2 separate regions of the Homo sapiens genome follow, and region 2 is linked to region 1. A link means that fine-mapping ties the variant in region 1 to the expression of a gene that starts in the linked region. Tissue or cell type: testis. Region 1 holds a variant in brackets; the other region holds the start of a gene. All regions are shown on one strand. Distances are between the middles of the regions. Region 1 holds the start of ZBTB46-AS1 (ZBTB46 antisense RNA 1). Region 2 holds the start of ZBTB46 (zinc finger and BTB domain containing 46).

Evidence for each region. PIP is the estimated chance that this variant, and not a neighbour inherited with it, causes the effect. A credible set is the group of variants that fine-mapping cannot tell apart.
Region 2: ZBTB46 starts here. The variant in region 1 is the best candidate, but not a certain one, in a credible set for the expression of ZBTB46 in testis (GTEx, PIP 0.66).

What each region holds. Positions count from the first base shown.
Region 1 is chr20:63,800,975-63,816,804 of GRCh38, reverse strand. The region is part of intron 1 of ZBTB46 (zinc finger and BTB domain containing 46); the gene reads left to right. ZBTB46-AS1 (ZBTB46 antisense RNA 1) reads right to left here and starts at 8,729. Exons shown (of 3, transcript NR_110081.1): 1 at 8,650-8,729. RefSeq lists enhancers at 289-1,039, 1,040-1,790, 14,120-14,621. The variant T/A (reference allele first, on the strand shown) is at 6,559.
Region 2 is chr20:63,824,382-63,840,211 of GRCh38, reverse strand. It overlaps ZBTB46 (zinc finger and BTB domain containing 46), which reads left to right and starts at 8,948. Exons shown (of 5, transcript NM_001369741.1): 1 at 8,948-9,115. RefSeq lists silencers at 4,882-5,176, 8,791-8,930 and enhancers at 4,882-5,176, 10,513-11,204.

The DNA of each region.
Region 1 (15,830 bases):
TTAAGGAAGCTGGTCCTATTGGGTGAGGGCCCGCCCTAATCCACTATGACCTCATCTTAACTTGATTATATTTGCAAAGACCCTATTTCCAAATAAGGTCACGTTTGCAGGTTTAGGACTTCAGCAGACACATTTCAGCCCTTAACAGCATCACAGCTTGGGTTTTCTTGATGCATCTTTCACACGTATTTCTCTATGGAGGCTTCTCCACACATCAGCAGCTGCTACCTCTCGTGGCCACTGTATCCTTGACGCTGCTGTTATTTACAGCAGAGGTGGCAAGTAACCAGCGTCACCAAAATATTAACTAATGCATTCAGCCAGTGTGCACGCAGCCCTGGGCCTGTGGCAGGTCAGGTTCCTGGCCTGGGTACACAGCAGGTCATGGAGTCCTTGCTTTGCTGGGTTATGCAGATGGGGGAGATGCTTTGAGTATCTTGGGTGATGTGAGCCTGTGAGGAGAGACACGGGGTGGGTGGGGAGGGAGTCATGTTGAGGGTGAGCAGAGATGGAGCCAAGAGGGGCAGCTGAGTGTTGCGGCTGCTTGTGCCTCCCAATCCGAAGCAGGACTCGGGCCCTCCTCTGGGCACCCCCTTTGCCTTGCTCACTGCACCTGTGCCCACTGCATCTGTGCCCACCGCACCTGCACCCACTGCACCTGCACCCACTGCACCTGCGCCCACCTGCGCCCACTGCACCTGCGCCCACTGCACCTGTGCCCACCTGTGCCCACTGCACCTGCGCCCACCGCACCTGCACCCACCGCACCTGTGCCCACCTGCGCCCACTGCACCTGTGCCCACCTGTGCCCACTGCACCTGCGCCCACTGTACCTGCACCCACTGCACCTGTGCCCACTGTACCTGCACCCACTGCACCTGTGCCCACCTGTGTCCACTGTACCTGTGCCCACTGCACCTGCACCCACTGGACCTGCGCCCACCTGCACCTGCACTCACTGCACCTGTGCTCACCTGCACTCACTGCACCTATGCCCATCTGTACCCACTGCACCTGCACCTTCTGCACTTGTGCCCACCTGTACCCACTGCACCTGTGCTCACCTGCACCTACTGCACCTGCACCCACTCGACCTGCGCCCACCTGCACCTGCACTCACTGCACCTATGCCCACCTGCACTCACTGCACCTATGCCCACCTGTACCCACTGCACCTGCACCTTCTGCACCTGTGCCCACCTGCACCCACTGCACCTGTGCTCACCTGCACCTGTGCCCATCTGCACCCACTGCACCTGCACCCACTGGACCTGTGCCCACCTGCACCTGCACTCACTGCACCTGTGCCCACCTGCACTCACTGCACCTATGCCCACCTGTACCCACTGCACCTGTGCTCACCTGCACCTGTGCCCACCTGCACCCACTGCACCTTTGCCCACTGCACCTGCACTCACTGCACCTGTGCCCACCTGTACCCACTGCACCTGCACCTACTGCACCTATGCCCACCTGCACCTGTGCCCATCTGCACCCACTGCACCTTTGCCCACTGCACCTGCACTCACTGCACCGGTGCCCACCTGCACCCACTGCACCTGCACCCATTGCACTCACTGCACTTGCACTCGTGCCCACTGCACCTGCGCCCACTGCACCTGGGCCCACTGCACCTGTGCCTTCAGCTCAGACTTGGGCTCTCGGCCTTTTGTGTCTTCTCAGCAGCTGGTGAGCTGTGGCCCCTTTTCAGAATAGCATGTTTTGTTTGTTTATTTTGAGACAGGGTCTTGCTCTGTCATCCAGGCTGGAGTGTAGTGGCGCAATCTCAGCTCACTGCAGCCTCGACGTCCTGGGCTCAAGCGATCCTTGTGCCTCAGCTTCCTGAGTAGCTGGGACCCCAGGCATGTGAGACCATGATCAGCTCACAATAGCATTTTTAGTGCATCCAGTAAGATCCCTGGAAAATGAAGGGTAGCAACTACTGAAATATCATTGCTAAAATTCAGGAAAGTTTGATTTGTGAGGTAGTAACATGTGGAACTTTAATTTAGCACATAGCATTGTGAATGGTGCATCTGATATTCCTAATTCCGAAGTAGGGTGAGTATCGAGCATTCTAAGTTGCCTGCGGTGGCCATGGTGCGATGTGGACATGGCTGTGTCTGTGGCTTGTCACCCACAGTCAGACTCCTGAGGCCCAGGCTTGCTGCACTCCTCTGGGAGGTCAACCCCAAATGAGGACCCTTGCCTGGGGGTGGGAGGAGGCAGGTCTTGGGGTTCTCTCCCCCTGCAGAGGCAGGTCTTGGGCCTCCTGTTGAGGGGTGGGGCTGCCTGTGGGTTTCCAGATGAGATTCTCTCTCACCGCATTTGCACCGCTGGATTGTATATTTTCCCAGTTTTGTAAAAGTTATATTATTATTTTAAAACCTAATTATATTTTTAAAAACTTATTTTGGAACTTTTCAAACATACACAAAATTAGAGAGAACGTCCACGTCGCCTGGCTGCGGGAACCCCCAGTGCTCTGCTCTTGTCTTACTCATCTCTCCCACTCTCTCCCACTGTTTTTTCTTTTTCCTTTCTTTTTTTCTTTTCTTTTTTTTTTTTTTTTGAGACGGAGTCTTGCTTTGTTGCCCAGGCTGGAGTGCAGTGGCGTGATCTCGGCTCACTGCAAGCTCTGCCTCCCGGGTTCATGCCATTCTCCTGCCTCAGCCTCCCTAGTAGTTGGGACTACAGGCGCCCACTGCCATGCCCGGCTAATTTTTGTATTTTTAATAGAGACAGGGTTTCACGATGTTAGCCAGGATGGTTTTGATCTCCTGACCTTGTGATCCACCCGCCTCGGTCTCCCAAAGTGCTGGGATTACAGGCGTGAGCCACCGCGCCCGGCCCTTCCCACTGTTTTTTCTCTCAAGTGTTTTAAAGCAAATCTCAGTTTTACCCTCGGTGCTTCGTTGTGTGTGGCTCACACGCAGCCGGGCACCCCGCAACACTTCCTCAGCGTCGCGATGCTGGGCTGGGCTCAGCGTTCTTGACTGTGGCCTGCACATTTTCACTGTGGCTTTACTTGAATCAGAGTTGGGATGAGGGCCATGTGCTGCTTGTGGGTGGTGATGTCCCTGAAGTTGCGTTTCTTCTCTCTGTTTCATGCTACTTATTTGCTGAAGGATCAGTTTTGGTTCTGTGACACTTCCTACCTGAAGGTCTGGCTGGGTGCATCCTTGTGACCTTGAACTCCTGCCTGAGCCGTCAGTAGAACCAGGTAGAGGCGGGAGGGCTGGGACTCGCCCGCGCAGGGCAGTGGCAGGGGAGCAGTTACTCTGGTGTGTAGCCACAATGCTTACATTGGAATTTCCAACTTAATGTATTTTATTTATTTATTTATTTTTTTTTTTTGAGATGGAGTCTTGCTCTGTCTCCAGGCTGGAGTATAGTGGCACAGTCTCAGCTCACTATAACCTCTGCCTCCTGGGTTCAAGTGATTCTCCTGCCTCAGCCTCCCGAATAGCTGGGATTACAGGCGCGCTCCACCACACCCGGCTAATTTTTGTATTTTTAGTAGAGACGAGGTTTCACCATGTTGGCCAGGCTGGTCTCGAACTCCTGACCTCAGATGATCCACCCGCCTCAGCCTCCCAAAGTGCTGGGATTACAGGTGTGAGCCACCGTGCCTGGCCCCAACTTAATGTATTTTAAAACACGGGTTGTTTCATATTTTGATGCCTGTTTTTGTTTTGTTTTGTTTTTTTGAGACGGAGTCTCACTCTCACCAGGCTGGAGTATAGTGGTGCGATCTCGGCTCACTGCAACCTCCGCCTTCCGTGTTCAAGCAATTCTGCTGCCTCAGCCTTCCAAGTAGCTGGGACTACAGGCACGCGCCATCACACCCAGCTAATATTTTTCTCTATTTTTAGTAAAGACGGGGTTTCACCATGTTGGTCGGGATGCTGTCAATGTCTTGACCTCATGATCCACCTGCCTTGGCCTCTCAAAGTATTGGGATTACAGGCATTAGCCACCACGCCCAGCCGTAGTTTTTGTTTTGTTTTGTTTTGTTTTTTGTTTTGAGATGGAGTCTGGCTCTGTCACCAGGCTGGAGTGCAGTGGGGTGGTCTTGGCTCATGGCAACCCCCACCTCCCGGGTTCAAGTGATTCTCCCGCCTCAGCCTCCCGAGTAGTTGGGATTACAGGCGCCTGCCACCACACCCAGCTAATTTTTTGTATTTCTTTTACTAGGGACGGGGTTTCCACATGTTGACCAGGCTGGTCTTGAACTCCTGACCTTGTGATTCGCCCGCCTCCACCTCCCAAAGCACTGGGATTATAGGCGCGCACCACATTGCCTGGCTAATTTTTTGTATTTTAGTAGAGACGGGGTTTTACCATGTTGGCCAGGCTGGTCTCGAACTCCTGACCTCGTGATTCGCCCGCCTCCGCCTCCCAAAGTGCTGGGATTACAGGTGCACACCACATTGCCCGGCTAATTTTTTGTATTTTTAGTAGAGACGGGGTTTCACTATGTTAGCCAGGATGGTCTTGATCTCCTGACCTCGTGATCTGCCCGCCTCAGCCTCCCAAAGTGCTGGGATCACAGGCCTGAGCCTCCTTGCCTGGCCTTGTGAAAAATTTTAATGTTAATTTTCTTATTTCAAGTTGATTTTCATTTAGTTTTTACTAAAAATGCAAATGTAGTTTACCGTTGCTTCTCTTTTTTTTATGTAGGAAAAGTTGATGCAAATTTTGCCTGAATTTGGAGTTTTCCTATTAGTGAGAGTTTTGTTCCGAAAAGATCGCCGCCACTTTGGTGGGTCAGCACTAAAGCCTTGTTTCAATATCTGCAGGGTCAGTTCTTTTGAATATTTTAATGCTTCCACGTTTGGAGTCTAAGAGCTATTTTTACTTTAGTTTTTTTTCCCAGGCAAGTACTTGGTCTGAACGATGTATGAGCCAGACCTGGCAGAAAAGTGGGAGTTGGTGAAATAGATGTGCTACTTAGTGACAGGGACTGTGATTCTAACATTTTGTCTTATGGCAGAGTTGGATGAAAGGGGTTTGTTCCTGCACCATGGCTCACCTGCCCAGTGAGTCCTGAGTCCTCATGTGGCAGGGAGTCAGACAGCAGCAGCTCTCTTCCCAGCGGGGTAGAGCTCACCTGGCTGCAAGGTGAGCCGGCTGGCCCGTCGCCCAGCTCAGAGCTGACCCTCACACGTGCAGATCTCTGCTGGGCCCAGGGGTCAGGGTCAGTTGTCTGCGTCACCTATGGGCCACCCCCTCTCTGCACCCCCGAGATCTTCCTGCTCTCTGCGTTGCCTATGGCTATGAGCACAGTGGGCTTCCTGGAAATACTTTCAGAGGAGGTGACAGTCGTATCCTTCCAGGGCCCCTCCTGCCCTGTGGAAGAACTTACTTCTGCTCCTGGAAGTCAGAAGCTGGGAGGCCTGGGGCTGTAGTGTCTTCTGTATGAGAGGTGGGGTGGGGCTGGGGAGAGGAAGGCTGCTTGACTCTTCTTCAGGGAGACCCACCCCATGGCAGCTCCGAGGTCCTAGTGGGCTGGTGGCTCGCATCTTGTCCACCTGTTGTCGTCTCTTGCCCCTAGGGGGGCTCATGCCCATCCTGTGGGGTTCTGGGACCCAGACTCGCCCCTGTGGGCTGGGCGGGGTGGGGCTCATGCCCATTCTGTGGGGTTCTGGGACCCAGACTCGCCTCTGTGGGCTGGGCGGGGTGGGGCTCATGCCCATCCTGTGGGGTTCTGGGACCCAGAGAGGCAGACTCTTCGCCTGCCTGTTGGGTTTGTGAAAAGTCAAAGAGAGTGGAACACGGACGCCGGCTGGTGCTCTCCAGTGTTCTCCGGCTCTGCCGCTGGAGCTCCTCGTAGGAGTGAGGAAAGAGAGTGGAGCCTGGACGCCAGCTGGTGCTCTCCGGCTCTGCTGCTGGAGCTCCTCGTAGGAGTGAGGAAAGAGAAACGTAGATTGCTCTCATGTTCGCGCTCTGTTCACCTCCTGGGTGCTGATTTCCTGTGGCGTCATCCTACCCTGCATCTGTGCTGGTGGGCACGTTCTCGCGTTTGTGTTTTATTTTTATTTATTTTTTTGTTTTTTGAGACAGAGTCTCACTCTGTTGCCCAGACTGGAGTGCAGTGGCACAATTTTGGCTCACTGTAACCTCTGCCTCCCATGTTCAAACGATTCTCCTGCCTCTGCCTCCCTAGTAGCTGGGATTATAGGTGCGTGCCACCACGCCCAGCTAATTTTAATATTTTTAGTAAAGACAGAGTTTCGTTATGTAGGCCAGGACGGTCTCAAACTCCTGATCTCATATGATCCACCTGTCTCAGCCTCCCAAAGTGCTAGGATTACATTTGTGTTTTATGAATAAGGACCTTGGTTTGCGAGGGGAAGGGGGGTTTTGGTGCCTATCCTGAGTGTGGTCGGTGTGTGTGAGCTTGTGCAGACACGACCAGCTGGGCTTTCTGTTCTCATTTCTTCCCGTTAATTTCTGATAAACTTCTAAGCATCCACGTGACTGGCATTTTTAATGTTCCTGGAATTGGGTTTTGCTCAGTTTTAATACTTGACGGTTTTCTGGGCCATCTTCGAA[T/A]TGTCGAGTGTTTGGGTCTTTTTCTGTTTGTCACTGTTAGCCATAGCAGTGCTTGGAACATCTTGGAACCAATTAGCTTTTTGGGTTATTTCCTTGGGGCAGAGTCTCAGAAGTGGAATTAGTCAAAGAGGCAGAGGCATCTGTAGGCCTCATCCCCACGCTGCAGGCTGCTTCAAGGGCCGCCCCACTCTGGGCCTCCTGTGTCACGGCCACCTTTGTAATTGACATTACGTTAATGTTTGCCAGTTCCATGTATTTAGAGTTTTCTTTTCTTTTTTTTTTTTTGAGAGAGGGCCTTGCTGTGTCACCCATGCCGGAGTACAGTGGTGCCATCTTGGCTCACTCCAACCTCGACCTCCCGACTCAAGGGATCCTCCCACTTCATCCTCCAGAGTCGCGGGGACTACAGGTGTGCACCACCATGCCCGGCTAATTTTTTCTATTTTTTGTAGAGATGGGGTCTCACCATGTTGCCCAGGCTGGTCTTGAACTTTTGGGCTCAAGCCATCTGCTCGCCCCGGCTTCCCTCAGCGTTGGGATTTCAGGCATGAGCCACCATTCTGGCCTGGCCTTGAAATCTTTTCTCAGAGTTAAGCACGTGTCTTTTAAGTCCTTTCCAGAAATCTTTAAAATTGTATCATTGAGTTAAGCCACACTGGCCACCACACGGCTAACTTCGTAAGGGAGAAGAGGGGAGAGGAAGGGAGGTCGCGGAGCTCCTGCTGTCTCCCGGAGTCCTCTCCACCTGCTGGGCTCTGGCAGGTTTGCTGAGGACCGCGTGAGGGCGCTGCTGTCTTCTGGGCTCAGGGCTCCTGTGAGCTCCTGAGGCCTGGACCCAGGGGTGGCCTTTGTTGCTCCCTTGGGCATAATATGGGGGGACACAGGCAAGATGTGGGGCCACCACCCCAGCAGGCCTGTGCCGAACCCCAGGACCCCATTCCTGGAATAGACGCGGCCATGAGGACTGGACGCGCTGGGCGTGGCCCACGGCGGGGCCCCCAGGGCTGCGCCCCCAGGGCTGCTGACCTTGCCCCCCTTGGCTCCACCGAGTCTGCACCTTTAGTGCCCACTTCGGCCAAGCCCATGGCGAAGTGCCCCAGGCGCTGCGGTCCCTGCGAAGGGGAACGTGGAAGGCGAACGTGGAGAGCCCCTTGAGTGCCTCTGCAGCACCGGAGCACCGAGCCGCCAGCTCCCAGGTCTTACCTCATGAATCATGGAGTTTTCTTTCTTTTTTTTTTTTCTTTTTCTTTTTTTTTTTTTTTTTTTTTTTGAAGCGGAGTCTCGCTCTGCCGCCCAGGCTGGAGTGCAGTGGCGCCATCTCGGCTCACCGCAAGCTCCGCCCCCCGGGTTCCCGCCATTCTCCTGCCTCAGCCTCCCGAGTAGCTGGGACTGCAGGCGCCCCCACCACGCCCGGCTAATTTTTTTTTGTATTTTTTAGTAGAGACGGGGTTTCACCATGTTAGCCAGGATGGTCTTGATCTCCTGACCTCACCATCCGCCCGCCTCGGCCTCCCAAAGTGCTGGGATTACAGGCGTGAGCCACCGCGCCTGCTGGTTTTATTTCTTAAGGCGGCCTTGGCGCCTGTCCTGGCCGAGCGCTGGACCGAGGAGGGCCTTCTCTGGGGGAGGCTCTGTCCGCCTCCCACCCACGCTGGAGGAGCTCAGGTCTCATGGGGAGGCAGGACTCGCTTAGGGGCGGGAGGTCACACTGCCCCGGAGCCCAGGCCCTGCCCTAGGAGGAAGAGCCTGGCTTCCCCCTTCCCTCCCGCCGGGCCCGGGGCTGAGACTCCTTGTGGGTCCGGATGACCCTGTCCGTGACCTCCGCCCTGGCCCCGCTTCCGCCCCACGCCCCCCTGAAGCCCCGGGCTCCGTGGCGTCTGCCTTCCGGGCCCTCCCCTGCGCTCAGCCCCCGGGGCAAGGGCTGGGAAGGATGGCTTGACTGGCCTACAGGGTACAGGGGACCCCTGACAGGTTCATCGCTGGGGCCCCATGGGCCCCCCCTCCGTCTGTGCCGTGCGGATGTGGAGACTGAGGACTCCTCCATCGAAGGCGGCCGGTGGTGAAATCCAGTAATCTGGGTGGGGTCCTTACCGCGCTGTCCGCGGGGTTTCCTCACTGCTCAGGCGGCTGCTGCTCATCCACGCCACCTCCGTCGGTCCGTTCAGCTTCCGTGAGTGTCCCCTGTGGGAAGGTCCGTTCAGCTTCCGTGAGTGTCCCCTGTGGGAAGGTCCGTTCAGCTTCCGTGAGTGTCCCCTGTGGGAAGGTCCGTTCAGCTTCCGTGAGTGTCTCCTGTGGGAAGGTCCGTTCAGCTTCCGTGAGTGTCCCCTGTGGGAAGGGCCTGTGCCGCACAAGGTGGGGACTTGGGCACACGGCCTCGGAGGCCAGACACCGGGCGAGCCCCGCTCTGGGAGTGAGACCCGCTCGGAGGGGGAGCGAGCCCTGAGGCGCCGCCTGTAAGCCAGACCCGCTGCCTCACACAGACGGGTGCTTCGCTTGTTTTGGCCTAGTACAGCTTTTAAGCAAAAAGTAACTGGTTAGGGATTCTATCATATTGCTTGATGTAAACAAATGCGGCAAAATGTTAAAAAATGGAGTAGCTGAAGGCCGGGCGCGGTGGCTCACACCTGTAGTCCCAACACTTTGGGAGGCCGAGGCGGGCAGATTGCTTGAGGCCAGGAGTTCGAGACCAGCCTGGCCAACATGGTGAAACCCCGTTCCTACTAAAAATGCAAAAATTAGCCAGGTATGCTGGCGTGCGCCTGTAGTCCGAGATACTGGGGAGGCTGAGGTGGGAGAATCACTCGAACTCGGGAGGTAGAAGTTGCAGTGAGCCAAGATGGCGCCACTGCACTCCAGCCTGGGTGACAGAGCGAGACCAAACTGACTCAAGAAGAAACAGAAAATCTGAATAGACCTATAACAAATAAAGAATCAGTAGTCAAAAAACTTCCAATGAAAGAAAAGTTCAGAAACTTTCACTACAGTTATTGTACTTTTTAGCTTCCAAAAAGAAAAGTCAATTTCAATAAAGAAATTGAATCAATAGTCAATAAACTTCCAACAAAAGAAAAGTCCATCTCTGTCTCTCTCTATATATGTATATGATTGTATATATCACTTCACTGTTGAATTCTATCAAACATTTTAAGAATTAACACCAATCCTGGCCAGGCGTGGTGGCTCACGCCTGTAATCCCAGCACTTTGGGAGGCCGAGGCAGGTGCATCATGAGGTCAGGAGATCGCGACTATCCTGGCTAACACGGTGAAACCCCGTCTCTACTAAAAATACAAAAAATTAGCCGGGTGTGGTGGCGGGCGCTGGTAGTCCCAGCTACTCAGGAGGCTGAGGCAGGAGAATGGCGTGAACCTGGGAGGCGGAGCTTGCAGTGAGCCGAGATGGCGCCACTGCACTCCATCCTGGCCGACAGAGCGAGACTCCATCTCAAAAAAAAAAACCAAAACAAAACAATTAGCTGGGCGTGGTGGTGGGCGCCTGTAGTCCCAGCTACATGGGAGGCTGAGGCAGGAGAATCGCTTGAACGTGGGAGGTGGAGGTTTTAGTGAGCCAAGGTCGCACCGTTGCACTCCAGCCTGGGTGACAGAGCCAGATTCCATCTCAAAAAAAGAGAAAGATTCCATCATATTCCTTGAGAGCATAGTGTTGCCTTTATTTTAAGCAGGTATTACAACCTTCTTATTTAGGTTCTATTTTTTTTGAAGTTACCATTTCAGGTCAGAGTTAGCCATAGCAGTATCTCAGATTTAAAATGTACACAAATAGTTTTCTTGCCTTGTTAAGCTGATTAGCTTTCTTTTCTTTCTTTTTTTTTTTTTTTTGAGATGGAGTTTCACTGTTGTTGCCTGGGCTGGAGTGCAGTGATATGTTCTCGGCTCACTGCAACCTCTGCCTCTCGGGTTCAAGCAATTTTCCTGCATCAGCCTCCCGAGTAGCTGGGATTACAGGCACCCGTCACCATGCCAGGCTAATTTTTTTTTTTAACTTTTAGTAGAGACGGGGTTTCACTATGTTGGCCAGGTTGGTCTCGAACTCCTGACCTCAGGTGATCCGCTCGTCTCAGCCTCCCAAAATGCTGGGATTACAGGCGTGAGCCACCTTTCCCAGCCAGCTGATTAGCTTTCTGAGAAAATTATAATATTTTTAAAAGTTGGGGCCGGGCATGGTGGCTCATGCGTGTAATCCCAGCACTTTGGGAGGCGGAGGCGGGTAGAGCACCTGAGGTCAGGAGTTCGAGACCAACCTGGCCAACATGGTGAAACCCTGTCTGTACTAAAAATACAAAAAAATTATCCGGGTGTGGTGGCACACACCTATAATCCCAGCTACTGGGGAGGCCGAGGCACGAGAATCACTTGAACCCAGGAGGCGGAGGTTGCAGTGAGCCGAAGGCTTCAGTGAGCCGAGATCGTGCCACTGCCCTCCAGCCTGGGCGACAGAGCGAGACTCCGTCTCAAAAAAAAGGAAAAAAAAAAAAAAGCTGATGCATGGCTTTGTGTATTAGTTTCCTGGGGCTGCTGTGAAAGTACCACCTGCTGGGCAGCTCGCGGCAGCAGAGGTGTCTCCTCTCAGTTCCAGAGTCCAGCGCTGGAACTCAGGGTGTCTCAGGGCCATGCTCCCTCTGGAGACTCCAGGCAGGGTCCTTCCTGCCTCTTCCAGCTCCTGGTGGCTCCAGGCATCCTTTGGCTTGTGACTTTGTCACTCCAGTTTCTGCCTGTGGTCACATGACCTTCTCTCCTCCCTGTGTCTTTTTTTTTCCTTTAGAGATGGGGGTCTTGCTCTGTCACTCCAGCTAGAGCACAGTGGTGCAATCGGAGCTCACTGACTGCAGCCTGCAACTCCTGGGCTCAAGTGATTCTGCCGCCTCAGCCTCTCAACGTGCTGCGATTAGAGGTGTGTACCACACTGCCCGGCTGCTGTTTCATTTTACCTTCTATCAGCACTTAGTATGAGACATTTTTGAAATACTGTAAATCAGTATTACAGATTTAATTTTCAAAAGGTACTGTAGGTCGGGCGTGGTGGCTCATGCCTGTAATCCCAGCACTTTGGGAGGCCGAGGTGGGCGGATCACGAGGTCAAGAGATCGAGACCATCCTGGCCAACGTGGTGAAACCCCGTCTCTACTAAAAATACAAAAATTAGCCAGGCATGGTGGTGTGAGCCTGTAATGTCAGCTACTCAGGAGGCTGAGGCAGGAGAATCAATTGAACCCGGGAGGTGGAGGTTGCAGTGAGCTGAGATCGTGTCACTGCACTCCAACCTGGCAACAGAGCGAGACTCCTTCTGAGAAAAAAAAAAAAAAGTCATGTAGGTTTTTTTTGTTGTTGTTTTTTTGAGACGGAGTCTCACTATGTTGCCCAGGCTGGAGTGCAGTGGTGCCAACTCAGCTCACTGCAACCTCCGCCTCCCAGGTTATAGCGATTCTCCTGCCTCAGCCTCCCGAGTAGCTGGGACTACAGGCGCCCCCCACCACGCCTGGCTAATTTTTTTAATTTTGGTAGAGACGGGGTTTCACCATGTTGGCCAGGCTGGTCTCGATCTCTTGACCTGGTGATCCACCTGCCTTGGCCTCCCAAAGTGCTGGGATTACAGGCGTGAGCCACCGTGCCCGGCCTGGTACTGTAGTTTTGTTGACCCCAAGTGTATGTGTTGGGCCTGTCCAGCATTGAGATGTGGTCCCTGGGCTGAGAGGAGGGCAGGGCAGTGTCAGGCAGCGAGGTGGCATGTGTGCTGTCAGTGTAAGAACAGTGACGCCCGGGAGGGCTTCCTGGAGGAGGGGGAGGCTGTGTCCATTGGCTGAGAGGGCTCAGGACTGCTGTTGTGATTCATGGCAGGATTCGCCTTTACAGATCTGACCTGTTCCACTGTGTCATCTATAACCCAAATGACAGACTAGGAGCTCAGCTGCCCCGGCCCCCTCCTGGGTGCCCAGAGCACCTTGTGCCCATCTGGAGGCACCCCTGCCACCCTCACACATGGCCCGAGCCAGGCACTGCTCCAGGCTTCCCCTGCGTGTGACTGGTGGGCACCTGGCTGGAGCTGGAGGGATGCTGAGGCCTGGAGCTGCTGAGGTGGGAGTGGAAGCCCCTCCATTCAGGGACCCCACAGCCCACCGAGACCCTGGTGGCTGGGGCTGAGATGGGACAGCGCAGGGCAGTGAGAGGTGTTTGGAAAGGGGAAGCGTGCTGGGCTCTGGCTGGGGACGCCCGACAGAAGGAAGTGACGTTATGTCGGTGCAGTGGCTCACGCCTATCATCCCAGCGCTTTGAGAAGCCAGGGCGGCAGGTTCGTTTAGGAATTCAAGACCAACCTGGGCAACACGACAGAACCCCGTCTCTACAAAACAAAAAAATTAGCCCGTGTGGTGGCGTGCCCCTGTGGTCCCAGCTGCTCAGGAGGCTGATGTGGGAGGATGCCTTGAGCCTGGGAGGTTGAGGCTGCAGTGAGCCGAGATTGCGCCACTGCACTCCAGCCTGGGGGACAGAGTGAGACCCCATTACAAAAACAAAAAGAAGGAAGTGACGGTAGCCAGGTTCGGGAAGGCGGAGGAGGCGGCCTGGGCGTCAGAGCCGGGCTGGAGATGAAGGAACTGAAAGGGGCCAGTGGGCAGGGAGGGGCGGGGCTGGCAGGGCCTCCGACAGAGACCTGGGCAGCCCGGGGCCTGGGCAGCCCGGGGCCGGCAGACATGGCTTTGCATCTTCAGATGGCCACATGGGGGCTGCCATGTGGAAAACCTAAAGTCCTCATCGCCAGCACCCACTTGCTCACTGGAGATGATGTGGATAGTACCACCGGTCTCGCTGTCGAAAGACGACTCTGCTAACATGTCTTGGAGTGTTTTCTAGTCAGGAGCTCACTTAAAAATTTTGAAATGCGACCACGAACAATGGTAATATGATGTATATGAAATTTAATTTGTACGACAGTTTCACAGTATTCATGTCTTAACCTTAATTTTTTCAGAAGAAGGTAAACCATGAACGCCTTGGTGTGAGGGGAGGTGCCTGGTTCCTGCTGGTGAGGCGCCCTGGGGGATGGTGCCCACACTGGTCCCTGCCTGGATGGCATCCTGGGGGATGGTGCCCACGCCTGGTTCCTGCTGGTGAGGTGCCCTGGGGGAGCCGGGTTGGTGGGTTTCTTCGCAAGAGTGGGCAGAGCTGCCCAGAAACGTGTTTCCTCCTGTTGGCGTCTGTGGCATCGCGCTCTTTGGTGGTAGAAACGGGGCGTCAGTGACCTGGGGCTGCCATGTCAAAGGGCCACAAAGGGAACGTCGTAAACAACAGACATCTGTTCCCTCCAGTCCTGGAGGCCGGAGGTCTGAGGTTTGGGCATCAGCCCGCCGCGGTTCCTGGGAGGGTGCTGGGGGCCTGAGGTTCGGTCGTCGGCCGCGGCGGTTCCTGGGAGGGTGCTGGGGGCCTGAGGTTCGGTCGTCGGCCACGGCGGTTCCTGGGAGGGTGCTGGGGGCCTGAGGTTCGGTTGTCGGCCCACCGCGGTTCCTGGGAGGGTGCTGGGGGCCTGAGGTTCGGTCGTCGGCCGCGGCGGTTCCTGGGAGGGTGCTGGGGGTCTGAGGTTCGGTTGTCGGCCCACCGCGGTTCCTGGGAGGGTGCTGGGGGTCTGAGGTTCGGTTGTCGGCCCGCCGCGGTTTCTGGGAGGGTGCTGGGGGTCTGCTCCAGGCCTCTCTCCAGCCTCTTGCCGGGGCCTCCGCCGCTGCCGCTTTGTGCCGACCTGTGTCCAAATTTCTTCCCCTTTTAAGGGTACTTATCATACTGGATTAGGGGCCCCCAGTAACCTCATTGTTTTTTTTTTGAGAGGGTCTCATTCTGTCACTCAGGCTGGAGTGCAGTGGCGCAATCTCAGCTCACTGCAGCCTCCGTCTCCCGGTTCAAGTGATTCTTGTGCCTCAGCCTCCTGAGTAGCTGGGATTACAGACGTGCGCCACCACACCCGGCTAATATTTGTATTTTTAGTAGAGACGGGGGTTTACCATGTTGGCCAGGCTAGTCTCAAACTCCTGGCCTCAAGCAATCTGCCTGCCTCTGCCTCCCAAAGTGCTGGGATTACAGGTGTGAGCCATCGTGTCCAGCCCCAGCGACCTCATCTTAATTAATTGCATCTGCAATGACCTATTTCCAAATAAGGTGGAATTCTGAAATATGAGGGGTTAGGGCTTCAACATGAATTTGGGAGGCGGGGGCGGGGGGTTCAACCCGTAACAAATGGCAGTGAGGTCCTTGGATAAGCACAGGATTATAGCTGAGGAAAAATATTTTTACAAAAACTAATCCTTTATTGAGGCATAATTTACGTGCAGCAAACAGCACTTGTTTAACGAGCATAATCTGATGAGCTCGAACTCTTGGGTGGAGCTGCCGGTGGCTTTGGAGACACAGGCCGTCCCCATTGTGTCTGGAATTGGTGGGTTCTTGGTCTCACTGACTTCAAGAATGAAGCCATGGACTCTCGCGGTGAGTGTTACAGTTCTTAAAGGCGGCGTGTCTGGAGTTTGTTCCTTCTGATGTTCAGACGTGTTTGGAGTTTCTTCCTTCTGGTGGGTTCGTGGTCTTGGCTGGCTTCAGGAGTGAAGCTGCAGACCTTCACGGTGAGTCTTACAGCTCATAAAGACAGTGTGGACCCAAAGAGTGAGCAGCAGCAAGATTTATTGCAAAGAGCAAAAGAACAACACTTTCAATGTATGAAAGGGGACCCCAGCAAGTTGCCACTGCTGGTTGGGGCAGCCTGCTCTTATTCCCTTACCTGGCCCCACCCACATCTTGCTGATTGGTCCATTTTACAGAGAGCTGATTGGTCTGTTTTAGAGAGAGCTGATTGGCCCATTTTGACAGGGTGCTGATTGGTGCGTTGACAATCCTTGAGCTAGACACAAAAGTTCTCCAAGTCTTCACTAGATAGCTAGACACAGAGCACTGATTGGTGCATTCACAAACCTTGAGCTGGATACAGGGCGCTGATTGGTGTGTTCACAAACCTTGAGCCAGATACAGAGTGCTGATTGGTGTATTTACAATCCCTCAGCTAGACATAAAGGTTCTCTAAGTCCCCACCGGATCAGCTAGACACAGAGCACTGATTGGTGCATTTACAAACCTTGAGCTAGACACAGGGTACTGATTGGTGCATTTACAAACCTTGAGCTAGACACAGAGTGCTGATTGGTGTATCTACAATCCCTTAGCTAGACATAAAGGTTCTCCAAGTCCCCACCAGACTCAGGAGCCCAGCTGTCTTCACCG
Region 2 (15,830 bases), 23 kb before region 1:
CTCCTGAGTAGCTGGGACTGCAGGCACCCACCACCACACCTGGCTAATTTTTGTATTTTTTAGTGGAGACAGGGTTTCACCATGTTGGCCAGGCTAGTCTCAAACTCCTGACCTCGTGATCCGCCCGCCTCGGCCTTCCAAAGTGCTGGGATTACAAGCGTGAGCCACCGCACCGGGCCAACCCAGGTTTTTAAAGGGAGAACAGAAAAGGAGCAAAAAAGGGGTATGGGGAAGTAACGAAGGGGTAACCCAAGAGGCGCTGGGGAAATGGAAAATCACAGAAGGACTGAGTGGAAAACAGGGAAAGTGCTTTAGCTGTGGAAAGTTTGCACTGGGATAGAGTTTGCACTTTGCATTTTGGCAGCACTTTGTTACCTTGAGCAGAGACCAACACAGAGCTGGAATCACCTTTAGGGATGAGGCTCCTGCAGGCCGATGCCAGGCTGAGCTCTGTCAAAGTCTCTCAGGACGGCGTTCTGGTAGGTCTCCTCCGCAGTGTGAGGGCTCACAGTTCGTAACACGCAGGTGTGAACGCGGGGACCAACCGTCCTTCCACGGGGCGTACCCTGACTCAGCTTGGAGGTTCTGTGGTCCCTGTGGCCTGTGTGTGCTTCCAAGCTGGGCAGAGCCAGGAGCACCCTGAACCCCCGAATTCTAAAACCAAAAATGAGCATCTTGCCTGAGACAGGCCTGGAGAGGCTGCTTAACTCCCAACGCCAGGGTCAAAAGAAGGTGGTTTTCTTTGATTGTTTGGTTTTGCATTTTCCCCTTTTAAAAAACAAACTTTATTTTGGAATAATTTTAGATTTCAGAAAATGGGCGACATTGCAGGAGGGGTGCGGTGGGTCACACCTGTCATGCCAGCACTGTGGGAGGCCGAGGTGGTGGATCACTTGAGGTCAGGAGTTTGAGACCAACCTGGCCAACATGGTGAAACCCTGTGTCTACTAAAAATAAAAAAATTGGCCGAGCACAGCGGCTCACACCTGTAATCCCAGCATTTTGGGAGGCCAAGGCGGGTGGATCAAGAGGTCAGGAGTTCAGGACCAGCACGGCCAAGATGGTGAAACCTCGTCTCTACTAAAAATACAAAAATTAGCTGGGCGTGGTGGCGGGCGCCTGTAATCCCAGCTACTCAGGAGGCTGAGGCAGGAGAATCGCTTGAACCCGGGAGGCGGAGGTTGCAGTGAATCGAGATCGTGCCACTGCACTCCAGCCTGGCCAGTAGAATGTGTGACACTGCAAAGCACAGAGTCCTATGCACCTGTCACGAAGCCTCTGTCTTCCCTGACGTCGCCATCCTGTGTTGCTGGGTTGCCTTAGGAAGCCCACGTTGGGGTCCGTTTATCTCCCCCGCAGAACGGACTTTATTTGAAGTCTACCAGTCCTGCCATTGATGGCCTTCTTCGGCTCCAGGGCCCTATCAGGTGCCACAATGTTTAGAGCTGTCCCGTCTCCTCGGGCTCTCCTGTCTGACAGTTTCTCAGATTTCCTTGTTCTTGGTGACCTTTGAGGATCACCGACAAGGTGTTTTTGTAGAAAGTCCCTCAGTTTGTGTCCAGGCACAGTGGCTCATGCCTGTAATCCCAGCACTTTGGGAGGCCGAGGCGGGCAGATCACTTGAGGTCAGGAGTTCAAAAACGGCCTGGCCAACATGGTCTTGTTACTAAAAATCCGTTTCTACTAAAAATACAAAAAACAGCCAGGTGTGGTGGCAGGTAACTGTAATCCCAGCTACTTGGGAGGCTGAGGCAGGAGAATCACTTGAACCCAGGAGGTGGAGGTTGCAGTGAGCCGAGATCTTGCCACTGCACTCCAGCCTGGGCGACAGAGCGAGACTCCGTCTCAAAAACAAAAGCAACCACAACAAAAGAAAGCCCCTCAGTTTGGGTTTGTCTGATGTACTTTCTCAGCAGTAGACTGAGGTTTTGGGTTTGGGAAGGATTTCACAGAGGTGGGGTGCTCTTTGAGTCACCTCTTATCAGAGCTGTGGGGCATCCGTGCGATCACCTGGCGACGCTCACCTGGTCACCTGGCCAAGGTGGTGCCTGCCAGTCGCCTCCTCGGCCAAGTTCCTCTTTGCCTGTCTTGACTCCGCTCTTTGGAAAGGAGTCCCTAGACCCAGTCCTCACTCATGGTGTGTGCATAGGGGTAATCTCTGCTCTCGGAACCTACAGGTATTACTGGGAATTCTTTTGTAGGGGAGGTTGGTGTCTTTCTTGCATTTAATTGTTCTTATTTTTTATATCAGCACGCGCTCCAGCTTGGGGTCATAAGCCAGCACTATATGATTCTGCTGTTCTCCTCTCTGGCCCTCCTGCCCCCTGTCATCCCACCATGGCCAGGAGCTCAGCTTGCCTTTTCCTGCTCTGCCCCAGCACCAGCCATGTCCCCAAGGGGCCCATTCCCAGTTCCTTTTTATCTCAGAAGAGCTCGTTTATGAATTTGCTGACCTGTCACCGACTCTCCACTCTTGCAATACAAGGGGTTTTTTCTGGCTCTCCAGACCTAGCACGTCCTGGCACGCGGTAGGTGCCATGATCCGTGAATGCTACCCTGCAAGTGAGTGAGTGAGTGAATGAGGCTGAGGCAACAGGCTGGCCTTGTGCAGGGCTGGGGCCTCTCCATATCCACCAAGGGAACCCCAGCAGCCCCCCTCTGGTGGAAGGGGACGGGCCACAGCCACCTCCCTTCTCTCTCCTTCCCAGGCCCCAGCACCGGAGGTGGGACCAGGTGACCCTGGAGAGTCCTTCCCCTCACTGTTCCCCAAGTAGGGAGATTCCTGGTACACCATAGGTGCAAACCTTCCTCCAGGGCCAGCCCGACTGACAGGCTGACATGGCCCCCCGTGCCTGCTCCACTATGTCCCATCCTGGAAGGCGGACTGCCCAGTGACAGCTCCTGGAGGGGACACCAGGGAGAGCCAGGTGTCCATTTCACCTGCAGTGGCTATCTGCAGAGCCATCACCCGCCTCTGCAACGCGAGCCCTCAGAGGCCAGGGGCCCCTGGGGAGCAGCTGTGTCCCTTCAGCCGGGACTGAGGCCCCGGCCCCCATCACCTCCTGGTGCTGACCGGCTGGTCCAGAGCCTGGGATGGAATTACAGCCCCAGGTCTGACCCGCAAGGGCAGCCGTGCCTCCCCTAGGCCTGGTGAGCCAACTTGCAGGCACCCGCTGTGTTTGAGGGATACGGTCTAGCGGGCTGGGGGATATGGAGGGGGGTCCTATGTTGGAGGTGGGGATCAGGGACCACTGGGATGAATGCAGAGAGAAAGCTCCAAGGAGGGAAGGGGCAGCAAGGCCAGGGCTGGGACTGAGAAGCCACACGTTGGAACTTAAAGGGACTCAGGCCGGCCCCGGGTGCCAGGTGGTGAAGCAGGAGGGAGTCCAGGATGGCCTGGGACAGCTGAGGCCTGGGAGCTGGTTCCACCCTGAGCTGTGCAAGGCTGGTAGGGAGGGGCCCGTTCCCCCCAACATGGCTGGGAGGACCCTCCCGGGGTCTGTGGTTAGGCCAAGCTGTTCACAGACCCTCTGAGGGAAGGTCCAGCTCCGCCCTGCAGCTCCCAGGGCCTGCTCCAGCTGCGCTCTGGTTGCCTTCCCACCCCTGCGCTGGGCCTGACGTGGCCCCTGGCACTGAGGATGGGCTGCCCTGCCTTCTCCCCTGCCCCTGCCCCTGCCCTGCCCGCGCTCTCCCTGCCCTGCCCGCACTCTCCCTGCCCCTGCCCTGCCCGCGCTCTCCCTGCCCCTGCCCGCTCCCCTGCCCTGCCCGCGCTCTCCCTGCCCCTGCTCTGCCCGCGCTCTCCCTGCCCCCTCCCCTGCCCTCGCTCTCCCTGCCCCTGCCCTCTCCCCTGCCCTCTCCCCTGCCCTGCCTGCGCTCTCCCTGCCCCTGCCTTCTCCCCTGCCCCTGCCCTGCCCGCGCTCTCCCTGCCCCTGCCCTCTCCCTGCCCCTGCCCTGCCCACGCTCTCCCCTGCCCCTGCCCTGCCCACGCTCTCCCTGCCCCTGCCCTCTCCCCTGCCCTGCCCGCGCTCTCCCTGCCCCTGCCCTCTCCCCTGCCCTGCCTGCGCTCTCCCTGCCCCTGCCTTCTCCCCTGCCCCTGCCCTGCCCGCGCTCTCCCTGCCCCTGCCCTCTCCCCTGCCCTGCCCGCGCTCTCCCCTGCCCCTGCCCTGCCCACGCTCTCCCTGCCCCTGCCCTCTCCCCTGCCCTGCCCGCGCTCTCCCTGCCCCTGCCCTCTCCCCTGCCCTGCCCGCGCTCTCCCTGCCCCTGCCCTCTCCCCTGCCCTGCCCGCGCTCTCCCTGCCCCTGCCCTCTCCCCTGCCCTGCCCGCGCTCTCCCTGCCCCTTGCCTTCTGTCTGCTGGGGCCTCAGGTCTCAGACCTTCAGTGCAGTGCCTCCCCCGCCCCATCCCATCCCATTAGGGACACGGCAGGTGTGGCCTGGCCTCTGTCCCAGGGAAGGTCTGGAATGCAGATCCCTGGTGTGGTGGCCTGGAGTGGTGGTGGGAGCCAGGGCTCAGGAAGGGAGGGGGCTGGCAGTTGGCAGCAGCATTTTGGAAGGACGATTGGGGGTGAGCAGGCGCTTGGAATGGAGACCGGTCGACAGTTGGCTGTGGCAGCTGGAGCGGCAGTTGGGGCTTGGCAGGGGCGCAGGCCCGGAGGACAGTTGGGGTGGGGCAGCCGTGGGGTTGGCAGGTAGCCCCTGGCCCCAGAGCAGCTCTGGAGGGTGGTCCTGGGGAGGCCTGGGTGGGAGGGCAGGGCCAGCTGGCACTGGACCTGGCCAAGCCAAGCCCGAGAGGAGGCCCACCTCTATCCAGCCTCGACAAGGCCACCTCCCCCAGCCCGTGGGTGGGGCTCTCCTGCAGCCCACGGCCGGCCTCCAGTCCACCCGCAGGACCCAGGATGACGTGTGGTGGGCGGCTCCCTGGACAGCCCCAGCATCCTCAGGCTGGTGGCGGGCCTCTCTCCCCGCCCTGCCCTCTGCCTCTCCCTCTGTCTGGGCTCCCAGCAGAGGCCTGGAGAGGGCAGGGACAGGTTCTGGGCAGTTCCCTGGGAGGGGGCAGGACTCCCAGGGCTGTTGCCATGGGGACGACTGAGCAACACCACTGGCTGGTGAATAAACAGGCAGGTTCCCTGACCAGTGACTGAGACAAAGACAACCACAGAAATCCCAGCTGGGGGTGGACAAGGAAATGCCTCCTTGGGAGAAGAGGGGGTGGCAGTAAAGGCCCTGGCGAGGTTGGGGAGCTGCTTGGGGGGGGGTGGGGACACAGACAGGAAGGGGTATCTTGTTCCTCGGGAATTTTCTTTCCCAAAGCTCCTCCCAGGCCATCCTTCCTGAGGATGAGAGGCAGATCCCTACTCTCTTGGTGGTGTCAGAGCACCTGGAATGGGGCTGGGTCCCCTCCCAGATCCCCATCCCCTAGAAGCCACACAGTGAGGGTGGAGGGCAGGTGGCCGGCTGGCAGGGTAAGTGGTGCAGGGAGTCTGTGAACACAGGTCTGCGGAGAGGCCATAAGCGCGAGGCTGTGCCAGGACCCTCGGGGGGCCCTGCCAGCCAGATGGCTCTCCATTTGTGTCTCTGGTTGAGTTTTCCCAGGGGTTTGTGGGGGGCACGTCCCTCAGCAGGTACATCCGTGGGGCTGCCCAGCCTCTGCACCTTGCCCTGAGCCCCCCGTCCTCCAGAACTCCTGGCCTGCTGCCGCTCATCCCTCATAGGCCTCAGGGTCCCTTGGACAGGCTCCCAACGTGCTCACCCAGATGGCTGGGGGTGACTTTCAGGAATGACCACGTAATGCAGCGTGGACAAGTGTGCCCTACAGAGACCTGACCTTTTGTTCACCTGTCTTGTTCACCCACTTGGCGAGGTCAGGGACCATGTCCAGTTCATCATGTCACCCTCAGGGGCCCCACCCTCTGGACCCTCCCAGACACCCATGTGCTGGCCTCCCAGCCCTGATCCCAATGCTGCTGAGGCCACACTTCACATTCTCTGTTCCCAGAGCTGCCTCCCAGCCGGCTGTCAGGCGGCAGATCCCTCCTTGCATCTGTGGCCCCCAGGCCTGGTGTGCGTCACCTGCACAAGTGTCCCGGGGCCCTAGGAAGAGGGGGCACCGCGGCCCAGCCTGGCATCCCCCCGTCTCATGTCTAATCCCAGCAGCAGCTCAGTAGATGCTGGGCTCCAACAAACCTGAGGTTCCTGGGCCACGGGGCCAGCATGCCCGTCGGAGCAGACACTCCACGTGGCTGTAGGAGTCCAACTACTCCACCCTCCTCGTCCTCCCAGTTCGGCTGAGAGGCTGCAGCTGCTGCTGCTGGTTTTTGTTTGTTTTTCTTTTAAATAGTAATGGGGTTTATCAGCTCTTGGAATAACGGTCTGTAGGACTTAATCAGGGCGCTGTCTCTGAGACCGGTCTTGGTTCTTCCTTTTTGACATACTGTCTTCGTCTCCAGGCTGCTTGACCTTCTGTTGGTTCTTGGAGCAGAAAAGTCAGGAGTCTCTGTCCCGTCACTGGCAGTGTTGCCGAGGGGGAAGCGGGGAGGAGTGGGGCTCCCAGGTGAGAGGGGGCCCAGAGCCTCATCCGCCCCGTTCATTCTAGAACTCAGCACGTTTCTTTTTTTTTCTTTTTTGAGACAGAGTCTTGCTCTGTCGCCCAGGCTGGAGTGCAGCGGCACGAACTTGGCTCACTGCAAGCTCCACCTCCCGGGTTGACGCCATTCTCCTGCCTCAGCCTCCCGAGTAGCTGGGACTACAGGCACCTGCCACCACGCCTGGCTAATTTTTTGTATTTTTAGTAGAGACGGGGTTTCACCGTGTTAGCCAGGATGGTCTCGATCTCCTGACCTCGTGATCCGCCTGCCTCGGCCTCCCAAAGTGCTGGGATTACAGGCGTGAGACACCGCGCCCGGCCCTCAGCAAGTTTCTACCAAGACAGGCAGCCCTAACCTGGCAGGTGGGGTTGGCCTGGGTCGTGGTGAGATCAAGGTTTGGTTCTTATGGGCAGGCCTCCTAAGCGATGACTGAGTGCCACTGTGTGTTCCGCCAGGCAGCTGCTGCTGCTCTCCATCCCTGCATGGACAACGGACATGGCAAACCATCAACACTGCTCTCCTTGGAGGCTGTCTAGGGAGGTCCAGACATCTTGGGAGAGACTGGGGTTCTCTTTTGCGCAAGAGAGCATGGGCAGGCTCTGCGGGAGGCCCTTGGGGCAGGCATCAGGGCTCTGGTCCTCCTTGCTTTGGCTCGGTGGGCCCGAGCTCTCCTGTCTCCCCAGGCCTCCTTTCCTCCGTGGGGTACAACTGGGCTCTGGGTGGGCAGGTGGGGGCTCCTGCAGGCAGTGCTGTTTTCTCCAAGGGGGATGCACGTGACCCGCCAGACCCTCCTGGAAGCCGCCTCTTCTCAGGGTGGTTGTGCTCAGCCCCCACTTCCCGAAGGTCGGTGAGGCTGGGGCTACAGTTTCAGACCAGAGCAGGCAGTGCCACCGAGAGGGTGCCGCGCGAGGTAGGCCGGCGACGGGGCTTCCTGGGCCGCAGTGCCATCCCGGCGACCTTGGCGAGGGGATGGGAACGGGGTGTCCGCACAGCCATTTCCAGGCGCCCGCGACGGCAGTAAGGGAGTGTCCCAGGCGTTGGTCCCGGCAGCCACACCTCGCTTCGCCTTTGCTCACTCATGGAGAGCCCTCAGCCGCCTCCCACTGCCGCTCCTGAATGCGCCTCACACATCCAGATTTGAAAGCACCCATAGGGCCGCCGCCTCCCACCTCCCGAGGAATCCGCTGCGCTGGGCCCGCAGGGAGGCAGGCTGGACGGCCCGGGCGCCTCCCCATTGGTTGGCCGGGCCGGGCTCGACTCCCTCGCGCGGCTGCCGGCCACAGGCTCACCTCCCTTCCCGCCGCGCCCGGGGAGAGGAAGCGAGGTGGCCTTTACCCCTGCGCAGGCCGGCCAGGAATGCGGGGCCGCGCTTCCCACTCTACCCGCCCGAGGGCTGAGGACGGCGGAGGCGAGAAGCGACGCGCAGAGTCCGGGCGCCGAGTGGTGGAGACGCGTCCCAGGCCGTTCGGATCGGGGCTGCACACGGGCTGGGGCGAGGCCCGGGCCGCTGGTTCCCGCCCCCTCCCGGAGCCATTCGTCCCCCGCAGACAACACGACGGGAGGGACCCACGCGCGGCCGCCGGTGCCCCTAGTCAGCCAAAAGCGAGCCCCACTGGCGGGCACCCCCACGAGGCCTGCGCCCGAGGTGCGCCGATCTCCGGGTGCGCCGAGGCCCCCGAGGGTAGGCGCGCGCGGTGCCCAGGCCCTTCCAGACCCCGCACCCCGGGCGGCCTTCCTTGGGGGCGCCTTTTCCGCACCGCGAGCGGCCCGCGTTGATGCCCGGCCGGGCTGGGGGAGTCGCCAAGTTTGCGAGACGCGCGCAGTGCAACCGCGCGTCAGGCGCGGGGACGGCCGGTGACCTGGGCACCCGCGCGCCCCCGAGGAACCTGCGCGTGGGCAGCGCCCGGTGCGCGGCCCGGGAAGGGAGCGGGTGCCCTCGCCGGGGTCGCCGCTCCCGTGGGGTGTTTCCAGGCTGCTCCGCGCTCGCGGGGCAAGGGCGCAGCGGGGGCCAGGGGGACCCCCGCGCCGCGCCGCCCCAGCCCCCCGCCAGCCCAGGGGAGGGGGCTTCCCACAATGCCCAGCGAGCTCCAGCCCGCACTTCCGCTGTCCGGCTGCCCGCGGGGGGGAGAACGGACCCCCGGCGCGGCCCCCTGCGACCCCGCGGCGCGGCGCCGGGAGCCGAGCGAGGGGCGGGGCCGGCGGCCGGGCCGGCGTGGGCGGGGCCCGGGGCGGTGGCCGCGGCCGGGGCGCGGCGCGGGCCAATCAGCGGCGGCCGGGCGCGCGCCGGGGGGCGGGGTCAGGGTCCGCGGGCGGGGCGCGCGCGCGCGGGCGGCGGGGGCCGCGGGGTTGGAGCGGGCGCGGGGGCGCGCGCCGGCCTGACGGACCGACGGACGGACGGACGGACCGAGCAGCCCCGGCGAGCGCGCAGCTCGGACCCGCCCGGACGCAGCGCCCTCCCGGCGGCGGCGGCGATCACCGGCGCCGGCCCGGCGGCCGCGGCGCCCGCCCTCGCCCGCGCCCCATGGGGTCACAGGTAAGCGGCGCCGGCTCATTGTCCGCGCGGCCGGGCGGGCGCATCGCGGCGGGGGCCGGGCCCGGAGCCGGGAGCCGGGAGCCGGGGCCGCTGCGAGCCCGGGCGCGCCCCCGCCGCCGGCCGCCCCGCCACGCCCCGCCCCGCGGGGGCGCCCTCCCGGGGGCCATCGGCGCTCCCAGCTGCGGCGCGGGCTCCGGGGGCGGCGGCGGAGACCCCGGCCCGGCCCCCGCGGGTGCCCCCCAGGCCGGCGGCGCGGGGCGGGGCGCGCGGGGGCGGCGCGGGTTCCCCGCGGGGCTGAGCGCGGAGGCGGCTGGGCTGCCCCGGCCCCTCGGCCCCCGGCACCTCCCGCCGCCGCCGCGCTCCCTCCCCGGCACCTCCGAGAGGGGAATTTTCCAGCTGGTAATTTCTGCTGCGTCAACGCCTGGCCCCGAGGCAGCCCGGGGGCGTCTTGGCGCCCCCCGCCCGCGCCCCCCGCCGGCACAGCCCAGCCGCACCCGGAGCCGCCCGCGCCGAGTTTGCCAAGAGTCGGAACTGCGGGAGGTGGGCGCGGGCGGGTCCCGGCGCCCTGAGGCCGGGGGGTCATTGTCTCCCCGGACGCCGGGCGCCGGCCTGGTCTCCATCTTAATCGCCGGCCGAACCGGGGCGCAGGGGCCTCGGGGCGGGGCGGCTCGGGGCGCGGAGGGCTCGGGGCGCGCGGGGCGGACGGGGCGCGCGGAGGAAGCGGGGTCCGCTGCGAGCCGCGTCTTTGTTTCTCTGTAAATAGACATGTCAGTTTCGCGGGGGAGCGCGAGCCGGTGTCTGACAACTCAATCCCTAAGGCAAACGGGGAATTCTCTGCGCCAGAGGGAGGGCTCCTGCTAGTTGGGGTTCCCCTGGCCCCGCTGACAGATTCACTGTTTGTAGGTTTAACGAAGCACACACAATAGGGCTGGACCGAGGAGCCAGGGTACAGACCAGATGGGGCGAAGAACGGATATTTTCTGACAGCGAAGAAATATAAACAAAAGAAAGTTTGAGATTCGCAGCGAATTTCCTCTCTCGCTTTCCGTGCTGCAATCTCAACGATGCATTTGGAGTGGATTACGGTGGCAAGATTGTGATCAGCATTGTTTAAAGAAATGCTAATTAGAAACGTGTTTAGCGCGCGGCCTGGGCGCAGACACCTGTGCGCCGAGAACTCACGGGCATTTTAATTGTATCGATTGTAGAATCTTTCATATTGGCTCTATTATCAGAGCTAACTTCCCGTTTGGGTAACAGACTGGATACATCTCTGCTGCTGGCACTCACGCTGCCTCTGCAAGGCACTATTTCACTCTACAAGAGTGGAAAATAGTTTGTTCATCAAAAGGAAATGTATAGAAGGGGTTTTTCACATGAATAATGAAGCAAGCGACAGTATTTATCAGAGTAGAACCTTTCTGCTCGGTGTGTTTTACGTGTTTCCAACTGGCACTTTTGGGCACCTCAGCCTGGTTACCACTGCAGAAAGGACTGAGGAGTGAGGGGAGTACTTGGGCACAAGTTACTGCAAATTTAGGTGGGAACTTACTGTGTCCCCTAAAAAGCTAGACATCTTCTCCGTAACTGAAGGAAGAGGGCTGGGGAGTTACTGTCAGATTTCTCCTTGGGGCGTGGAATGCACTCACTTTGAGGTGTTTAGAAATCCGAAATTCCGCCTTGCCTTCAGGCCAGCCTGGGGACAAGCATTTAATTAAGCCTCTCACTGACAGCATTATCCTGAACGTGAGAGTTTTCTTTTGCTTAGATGAGGTGATTTCTGTTCGGGTTTAGCTGTTTTGTGTGAGGATGAGTCGTTCTGTGCTCAGACCTGAGTTCCACTCCTGTTTCGGATGTTCGGGTTGGGTGGACTGTTACCTAAGGGCCCCCAGGTCAGTTCCACCAGGGCCAGGCTGACCCAGTGCCCTGCGTCCTCCGTCCCTCCCCAGCCCCTGGTGGTCACAGAGGTCAGGAGGTAAACCCTGTGAACGGTGAAACTGCTCCAAGGATTTAGAGGAAATGCCGTGGGGGGTACACAGTTGTTATTGTCAGACGATGTACTATTTACAAACACTGAATTAAATTTTAGCAGAGTGAACTTTCCAACACTGCCCTGACGTGGGGTTTTTAAATTAAGGGAAATTGGGCCACTCTGTCCCTGTGGCCTGTGTTTCTGGGACAGCGGTGCAGCTCCAGTGCTCTGTTCTCCATCAGAGGTCTTAGCCCGGCCTCTCAGAGCCCTGGAGACCCACTTCGTGCACGGTGCCTAGACGGCTCCACAGCCTGAGAACTGGAGCCGGTTCCTCCCACTGCCGTGACTGGTGCCCAGGCACCCGCTCCACTGCTGAGTTAAAGTGAGAGGAAAGGTCTAGAAGTCCTTGCCCCTTCCCATCCGCACACCCAGTGTCACGGCGTCTGCCGTGGTAGGTTCCCTGTCCTGGGGACTTCGTGTTCTTGCCTAAGTACCGTTCTTGTAAAAACTCAGGCTGCTGCTTCTCCCTGGGCTTTGCATGTTTTACCTGGAAGTCTCATGAGTGACCTTGAGTGATGGTTGATACTTCCCTCTACTGGTTTTTCTAGCAGATTTAAAAAAAAAAATACCCTTTGAATCTGTCCCCTCCCCTGGGGGAAAAATTCATCTTGTTGCTGCTAAGTTTGCTTGAATGGCCTGACTCCTAAGAATAAATGTTTGATTCAAAATCTCTATTAAGGCCACAGACTTATTCAGGGCTTTGAGAGGCCGCCGCCTTATCCTGATTGTGGTCCTCTTGCCGTCTGCCGCGGCTGCGGCGTAGCTGTGAACTTGTGCGGAGTGCTGGGGTCTTAGGCCATGGGGTCCATGGGAGGGATTTTCCTGCTTTTCTGTTATCACTTAGACCCTTTGAGTGCCTCACATATACAGACCCAGGCTTGGTGTTCTGGTTTGCTGGTGATGACAAAGGGCCCCAATGGTGTTGTTTATAGATGGAAAAGAGAAAGGATGTTTTTTAACAACCTAAAAGTGGTTCTGAGGCTGGGCGTGGTGGCTCACGCCTGTAATCCCAGTGCTTTGGGAGGCTGAGGCGGGCGGGCCGCTTGAGGCCAGGAGTTTGAGGCTGTAATGAACTATGATTGTGCCACTGGACTCCAGCCTGGGCAACAGAGCGAGGCCTTGTCTCTAAAACAATAAAATTAAGTAATAAATAAACAAATAAAACATTGTCCTGTTAAAGCATAAAAACAAATGAAACCAGTGAAATTTGACCTAAGTATGATTTATGCAAAGTGTTCTGTTGAATGGTTCTGTTGCATAGTTGAGTATCAGCAGTGCCGTTTTACTCTAATTTACAATTTAAAATTATTAAATGCTTCTAAACATCATTATCTGGATTAAAAATTTGCTACCATAGCTATTTTACAATAGAAAGTTGAGAAACATTAGTGTATTTTTCAAAAGCATTTGCAGATCTTTTGTGGTTTTTTTTTTTTGTTTTTTTTTTTTTGAGACGGAGTCTCGCTCTGTCGCCCAGGCCGGACTGCGGACTGCAGTGGCGCAATCTCGGCTCACTGCAAGCTCCGCTTCCCGGGTTCACGCCATTCTCCTGCCTCAGCCTCCCGAGTAGCTGGGACTACAGGCGCCCGCCACCGCGCCCGGCTAATTTTTTTGTATTTTTAGTAGAGACGGGGTTTCACCTTGTTAGCCAGGATGGTCTCGATCTCCTGACCTCATGATCCACCCGCCTCGGCCTCCCAAAGTGCTGGGATTACAGGCGTGAGCCACCGCGCCCGGCCATCTTTTGTGTTTTGACAGATGGGCTTTTGCGTCTTACCGGAGACACTCGGGGTTTCCTATTCATGACAGCTCTTTGGTGTTACTGAGGGCCTGCTGTGGACCAGACTTTGGGCCAGGTTGGTGACAAAGTTCCCACGGAGGTGGGTTGGGGGCACGCAGAAACCACTGATGTGACCCAGTGTGGTGGCTGGCAGAGGCTGGCAAGAAACGGCCCAAGGCTGGGAGGAGGGTGCCTGGACTGCTGTGTGGACTGCTGTGGGGACTGCTGTGGGGAGTGGCACCGGAGCCCAAAGGTGACTCGAGGGAAGGGAGTCCACTCGGAGATCCACCCGCACGGTTCCAGACCTGGCAGTCATCCGGTCCTGGTGGAGCGAGTCATATTCCAAACCCTGCTTCCCGGAGAGTGGATTGCTGGCCGGAGGGCAGGGCCACTGTACGTAGGAGGCAGCTTTTGGGAGCTGGTCAGCTGTGGGGGTAGGCATGAGGAGCAGTTGAGTTTCACGTTGTACCTTCTGAAGACTTGGTTCAGCACACATAATGCCTTCCCAAGGACACTCGCTGTCTTTTTGGAAAAGTCATCCGTGAAGCATTTCTTTTTTTGAGAGGGAGTCTCGCTCTGTCGCGCAGGCTGGAGTGCAGCGGCGCGATGTCGGCTCACTGCAAGCTCCACCTTCCGGGTTCACCCCATTCTCCTGCCTCAGCCTCCGGAGTAGCTGGGACTACAGGCGTCTGCCAACATGCCCGGCTAATTTTTTTTTTTTTTTTAAGTAGAGATGGGGTTTCACCATGTTAGCCAGGATGGTCTCGATCTCCTGACCTCATGATTCACCCGCCTCGGCCTCCCAAAGTGCTGGGATTACAGGCATGAGCCACCGTGCCCAGCCAAAGCATTTCTTCTCTGGGCCTGTCATTGTCGGCCCAGGTGTCGCCCCCGGGCTCCTCTTGGTTTCTCTTTGAGCATCTCTGACTTACTAGCGACTCAGTCCTTCTCAGTTTCCCCCAAAATGGAAAAGAGCCACATATGTGTGTGAACAATCAGTTTCTAAAAATGTCTTCATTTATCTGAAAGTCGGGCAGCATTGCTGCTTGCATGGGACACACAGATACTTTGTTTGTAAGACATTTTCGTTTACAAAAGTGCATCACATCATCTCTTCCAACCACTCTGAAGAAAATGAAGAAAATGAAGCCTCTTGCACAGAAAGCCTTCCCATTCGCTGGCATATCGCTGCACACGAGGCCTGCGTCGGTGCTCCTCTGTGGAGATGTGGAGAGGGGCACTGCTGTGCCTTGGGCTACGTGCAGAGGGCTTAGGAACTCCCGGTGTTGACAGCTGCCTTTGTGAGAGGTGGACACACCTGGACCGCGTGGCCCACGTTACTCTGGGCAAGTCGTCTTCTTAGTGTGGGTCACCCGCCGGATGGACAGAGGCTTTGCTTATCTGCTGGGGCATGGGGAGCAAAACTATGGCTCTTAACTGGGCAGAAGAACGAGAAGTCGGCCCAAGCTAAGCATTACCTGTCGCAGTGTTGATTCGCCGCTTTCCCAACTGACTTCCCTGAAAGAATCCCACAAAAAGTCACAGAGATTAGAAGCTTCTGAGTTATGAAGAAACTCGAAGGCCTGGTTGTTGATTTCTGGGCTGTGGAGGGGCACATCCAGACACACAGGCTTTCTAGAAACACACTCATAATCCACTCATTGGCCATAGCCAGCCGCTTTGCAGAGGCTGAGAAGTGGAGCAAGGCTGTTCTGGTTGGAGGAACAGCAAGTGCAGGGATAGAACCAGAAAACAGAGTTGTTGACACAAAGTGCCCAGGGCTGTTTGTGCAGCATGGGGACAACTGGCCCTGGGAAGCCGGGAGGGAGGGGTTTGATGGTAGTGAGATGGTGGGCGGGAGGGAGGGTTTTTTTTTTTTTTTTTGAGACGGAGTCTTGTTCTGTCCCCCAGGCTGGAGTGCAGTGACGAGATCTCGGCTCATTACAACCTCTGCCTCCCGGGTTCAAGCGAATCTCCTGCCTTGGCCTCCCTAGAAGCTGGGATTATGGGCATCCGCCACCACGCCCGGCTAATTTTTGTATTTTTAGTAGAGATGGGGTTTCATCATGTTGGCCAGGCTGGTCTTGAACTCCTGACCTCAAGTGATCCGCCTGCCTCGGTCTCCCAAAGTGCTGGGATTACAGGCATGAGCTACTGCACCCAGCCAGGAAGGGTTTGATGATGGTGAGATGGGGGTGCAGTGATGGGAAGATGGGGGAGGGAGGGTTTGATGACGGTGAGACGGGGGTGCAGTGATGGGAAGATGGGGGAGGGAGGGTTTGATGACGGTGAGACGGGGGTGCAGTGATGGGAAGATGGGGGAGGGAGGGTTTGATGACGGTGAGACGGGGGTGCAGTGATGGGAAGATGGGGGAGGGAGGGTTTGATGACGGTGAGACGGGGGTGCAGTGATGGGAAGATGGGGGAGGGAGGGTTTGATGACGGTGAGACGGGGGTGCAGTGATGGGAAGATGGGGGAGGGAGGGTTTGATGACGGTGAGATGGGGGTGCAGTGATGGGAAGATGGGGGAGGGAGGGTTTGATGACGGTGAGATGGGGGTGCAGTGATGGGAAGATGGGGGAGGGAGGGTTTGATGACGGTGAGATGGGGGTGCAGTGATGGAAACATCACCTCTCAGAGCACCCAGAAGAACGGGGGTGGGGGAAGGCGGTAAGTGTTCCTTGGCCACGTGAAATTTTGGGTGGGATTAGAACCTCTGAGTTGTCCTGCAGACCCTGAGCTTTCAGGAAAAAGGGCGTGGTTCAGGGCTTTTGTGGCAACCGCCAAGTGAGTTTTTCTGATATTTGCTAAATTAGCTTTCAAGACAACATGGTCTGTAGTCTTTCTTGTCTTGGTGTGGCCCTATTTGAATAAAATGGGTGTTCTCTTTCCATGCCATTTA